Regions from separate parts of the Homo sapiens genome. Here region 2 is linked to region 1. Evidence: fine-mapped expression QTL. Tissue or cell type: whole blood. Region 1 holds a variant in brackets; the other region holds the start of a gene. All regions are shown on one strand. Distances are between the middles of the regions.

Region 1 (2,757 bases):
TATCACTTCCACTGCCCAGTCAGCCCATCTGCAGACTTGACCTCCCAGCCTGCTTTGAACCTTTGAGATGACCGACATGGACACTACTATTCCCTGGGTCTCATCTCCTGGTCCCCCCAGGACCCAGGGTTAGCCTGGAAGACTCAAGCTCTGGGCTAGGTTTCCTCTGGTCTTGGAACTCCCATTTGACTGGCTCATTGCAGTGTGGAGTGGACAGCCCCCTGCAAAAGGCAGTCCCCACTAACCCACCTATGTTTATGGTAAACAGCCCTACCCCACTTTGAACCTTTCCTTTAGCCCAGAAGCCACCTCTCAGTCACATTTGGAGCTCCTAAAGGGCAGCAGCAAAGAGTCAGTCTTCTAGGATACCTGTCTGCACCATCATACTTATCACTACTTCAGCAATTGTCTGTTTTCTAGTAGCTAGGACCTTGACCAACTGGGCAGCCAAGTCTGCCTTTAACTCTGATGAAATCAATATGGTTACCATGTCCTCTTTCTAGCCTCCCCCTGGCAGGATCCCCCAATGTATTTGATAGCATTTACCCTTTGAGAAACGTAAAATCTCAATACAAGCTCTAAACTGAGCCTTTACTGCAGCCCAGACACCCAATGGGAGCATAATGCCATCAGATTTTGCGTACGTGTTACCTCCATATCCATCTTTGATATCTCTGCTAGCACCCACTCAGCCTTGGGTGGCACCTCGGGTCCTTTTCCCATTTGCACAGCCACTACTTCTAGCTCTGGAGCCATCACTGGATGCTCAGCATCAGGCACAGTTCACCTTTTGCTAACCCCTCTCTCGACCCATTTCCATTCATGGACTCTGGGGCTTCTTTGGATAATGACAGCTCTAGGACCAGTGTGTCTGCCCCAGACCCAGCTCCACATCTGAAGCACTCAGCTTTAGAACAGGGCCTAGAGGGGCATGCAGCACCTTAGTTTATGTTGGGGAGGCTTACACATGAGCACCGGGGTTCCTGCAAGCCTACAGCACCTCTGGTACAGTTGGAGAGGGCAGTACTACTGAAAGCAAAAACTCCTGGGAAACACTTTCCTCCCTGCCTACAGTCAGAGCAGCTGGGGCCTGTCCTGCCAAAGCACACCTCTTAGAACATCACTGAGAAGAAACATGTTCCAGAAGGCACCTCTGTTCCTTCTTGTGTTCATAACACCTGGAAACCATCTGGCCAAAGCACGTCTGTTGTGGTTGGAGGAGCCCGCACATACCAGTGCTTGGGACACTTCTGTCTTGCAGACAGACCACCTGGAATGCAGCTGGCCAGAGCACATCTGCATCCCTCAAAGGGAAGGAGAAAGCAGCACATCTATGCTTGGAGGCCTTTATGTTTCCACCACAAGCAGAGCACCCTGTTGCACCTTTCCAAGCACCTATGTTGCAGTAGCAGGGGACAACACACTACCTGTGACTGCAAGTCTTCTCTTCTTGTGTCTGGTCAGAGC[G/A]CTTGGGGCCCATATGGCCTGGGCAAACCTGTTACTGCTGGAGAAGCCTGCACAACAGAGAAGAAACATGTGCCCCAAGATACTTCTGTTCATGACTTCTGTCAAACGCCTTTGGACCACTCAGCTTGAGCACATCTGTTTCTGTTGGAGGGGCTGGTGCCATATCTGTGACTGAAGAAACTACTGTTTATGAATACAATCAGAGCATGTGAGGGCCATAAGTCCAGAGTATAGGCAGTGCAATGCCTGCAATGGGAGGAGATGGCACCATACCTGTAATGGGAGGAGATGGCACCATATATGGGTTTGTTTGGGGGGGACACTTCTGTTCATGAACACAGCCAGAACACCTGGGGTCCACAAGTCCTGAATTCAGGTGTACAATGGGAGGAAACAGCACCCCACCTGTGCCTGCAGAAACTTCTGTCCATGAATAGTCAGAGAGCCTGAGGTCCACAAGTCCAGATTAAAGATGGTGCAATGGCAGGACACAGTCCCACACCTATGCTTACTCGCGAATACAGCCAGAGTGCCTGGGTTCCACAAGTGAGGATTCAGATGGCAAGTAGAGGGTACAGTACCATTCAAGTGTTTGGGTACCCTTCTCACCATCATTCAGAGCAACTGGGACACTGGTGGCTGGAGCACACTTGTTGCAGTCAGATGGGAGAACATGTTGAAGAAGATACTTCCATTCTCACCTTCAATCAGAACACCAGGGGCCTAAGCCAGGGTACCTTCCCTCTTTCATTTTGGAGAAAACAACATCACTGAGAAAATATCTGTGCTTCAGGACCTTTTCCACCTGCTTTTGATCAGGTCAAATGTGCTTCTGTGGTGGGCACGGCAAGCACAGCCTCGTCTTTGGGGCACCCTCGGCACCTGCACAGGGATTCTTTGGGGACAGAAGCATGCAGCATCACCCTATTTGTTTTCTTCTCATGTAAGACTTAGGGTCCTCAGTGACCAAAAGCAAAAGCTTCCTCTAGAAATGGCAGGTGACCACTGTTCCCCATGATTTGATCTTGTTCTGCTGGGAGCAGTTTCTGCTCCTTCTAGTTACGGCAAACAAGCTTCACCTGCCCTTTGTCCTTCTAGCACAAACTGGAAGCCCAAGACCCTGGGGTGTTTGTGAATGTGTCCAAGGACTTGGGTTCAGATGAGCCAAGTCAGAAGTCGACACACTAGCCTAAGATGTTCACCTGTGGAGAGAAGAGAGAGATGGGTGAGTATCAGCCGTGCAACACTACACTCTAGTTTCAGTGTTATCCTGGAAGACCTAAGCTTTGG
Region 2 (2,628 bases), 17 kb after region 1:
CCTTGCTGCGAAATATTTCTAGGAGAAAATACTCAAGACCTAAATCTATGGAGATATATATCATCCCTGTGGCCTGGAAAAGTTAATATTGGCAAGTTGTCCATCTTGGCCAGGACCCTGAAAGATAGTCTATGTTATTGTAAGAAAGATTGGTGTCCTTGGGGGCATGGGCTTTTAAGCCAGGGTGGAATCTGCAGAAGTCTGAGGTGCCATTTCCTGTCCCTATACCTGGGAGAAAATAGCTCTCAGACAGCTGTGTGGCTTTCTGCAAAGCTCAATTAGAAGAGAAATTATCAGGCGTGGTGGCGCATGCCTGCAGTCTCAGCTACTTGGGAAGCTGAGGTGGGAGGATCTCTTGAGCCCAGGAGTTCGAGGTTGCAGTGAGCTGTGACTCCAGCCTGTGTGACAGAGTGATACGCTGTCTGGAGAAATTCATCATGGAGATATGCTGATAATTGGTGGTCCCTGCCTACATCCTCCCAGGAGACTGAGCCAGACCCGGTGTGGCCAATGGTCCACTTATAAATTGAACCATGTTAGACCTCCTAACAGTGCAAGTACTCATTACAGCTCTGACATGGTGCTAAGCACCCCAAGTATTATAAACAAGTGTAATCCATTATGCACACACGGTGAGGCTACACCAAAGTCTGGTGGTTAAATGCATGATCTGTGGAATCAGACAGCATGGGTTCAAACCCTGGCTGGGGTGAGATGGGGAACTTTCTAAGGCTTAAATGCTGTTTTACCAAATATTTTAAAAGAAGTGAAAATACACTGCCTGTTAGAAAGGGAAGTTTTGGGGTGAAGCATGTGGGCAGTTTAGAATACCTGGTGTCCACCTCAGAAACCATCACAGCCCAGATGTTATAGGTTCAGGCCTTTCCAGGGCGGGCACATAGAATGTCCTCGCCTCCAAGGTTTGGAGAGCTGCGCTATAAAGGTTCTTGCAGGCGGTGTCCTGAGCCCAGAGCTGCCTGCAGGCGGGCAGGAGTTGTGGGGGTGTTGGCATGATCTGGTGTCCTCTGTGGCGGCTGCCTGAAAAGAAGAGGCCGAGGGTTCTTTGTCCTATGTCTCTCCGAATCTTAATACCTGCCCTGCAGCAGACTCCCTGGCTGCCAGGGCACACCGGTCACCCCGGTAGACGGTGCCGCCCCGCCCTCGCCAACCCCTTATCCCAACTCCCATTTCCAGCCTTCCAGGAAGCCCGATCCCCACCCCCGCACCATGTGAGCTGCTCCTCTACTCCGCGTAGGGGAGGCTCTGCCTCCGGTGACCCCGAGGGAAAGAGCTAGAGCACCCACAGGTGCTGACTGCTGCGGCGCTGAGGACGCTGCACACCCGTTCACCGGCTGACCCAGTGCTGCTGACAACCAGCGTCCGCGGCCCCCAACCGTCGAACAGAGCGCGTGGGACCATCTGGTGCCAAACGCCTGCAACGGAGTGCAGAAGGTCACGAGGCGCTAGAGACCGGTTGGGGGCAGGCGGTTGGGCCTTGACGCTCTTTGCTGGGCGTCGTTTTTTCTTCTCGCCCCCTTCGCTCCTGTGCGCTTAGTGCACAAGCCCTGGGCTCACACACCCTTTCTCTGTCACGTGTTCCAACAGCATCTCACCTGCATCGGGCTGAACAGGAGACCTCAATTTTCTCCTCTACTCCAAGGATTCGCCGGCTCACAATTGCTCTTCATATCTTCAGCAAGCTTTGTCTGTGCCCTGCCCCTCTGTCCCCCATTGCCTACCATACCCGCTCCCACCAAGCCTGCATCACCTCGCTGTCTCTGTGCCTCTCCCCGGCCCCCTTCCAGGCCTTTCTCCCACAATTTCTGGTCTTTGCTCCTGGGTGTTCCGTCGACCCTAAGAGGCGGTGTCTGATCTGGCAGGCTCAATGCCTTTCTCTGGCGCTGTCTGCACCTCCAATATATTCAGTGACTCAGGAAGGATCCATCCTGCAGGGCCCAGATAGACTCTCCTGTTTGCCACCTGAGCAGAAAGGCACCTCTGTGAGGTCTTTGCCACCCAGTCACCCTACCAGACCCAATCAGCACGTGGGAGACGTGGATGACAGGAGGACAGAGATGGAGAGGGACCAAAAGACTACATGGGGCCTTGAAGGATGTCATAAGAACGTTGCCTTTTACTGAGAGATGGGAACCATGGAGGGTTTCAAACTGCTGAGACTGGCATGATATGACTTAGGGCTTTTTTGTTTGTTTGTTTGTTTGTTTTTTCTTTTTTGTGACGGAGTCTCAGAGTCTTCCTCTGTCATCCAGGCTGGAGTGCAGTGGTGTGATCTTGGTTCACTAGAACCTCTGTCTCCCGGGTTCAAGACATTCTCCTGCCTCAGCCTCCCGAGTAGCTGGGATTACAGGCACCCACCACCACGCCCGGCTAATTTTTGTCTTTTTAGATGTTTTATCTCAGAGAAAGAGCTTCCATGTTCTCTAACTCTTGTAAACAGGTATTCTTCAAGAAACTTTACAATATAACATTCATACACAGAAGTGTACAAATCATCTGTCTATTCCTCAATACATTTTTGCAGAATGAACAAACCTATGTAATCTAGATCAAGAAGCAAAACACAGGCACCTCAGAATCAACCTCATGCTCATTCCTAGTCACTATGCC

What was found. PIP is the estimated chance that this variant, and not a neighbour inherited with it, causes the effect.
Region 2: it holds the start of LINC01801, and the variant in region 1 is fine-mapped to the expression of LINC01801 in whole blood (TOPMed, PIP above 0.99). The same link has a PIP of 0.9 or more in testis.

Annotation. Positions count from the first base shown.
Region 1 is chr19:34,814,822-34,817,578 of GRCh38, forward strand. LINC01801 (long intergenic non-protein coding RNA 1801) reads right to left here. Exons shown (of 6, transcript NR_033982.1): 6 at 1,333-2,669. Among named protein-coding and RNA genes, the nearest start is that of LINC01801, 17 kb to the right of the region's middle. The variant G/A (reference allele first, on the strand shown) is at 1,468.
Region 2 is chr19:34,831,499-34,834,126 of GRCh38, forward strand. LINC01801 (long intergenic non-protein coding RNA 1801) reads right to left here and starts at 1,371. Exons shown (of 6, transcript NR_033982.1): 1 at 1,227-1,371; 2 at 832-1,038.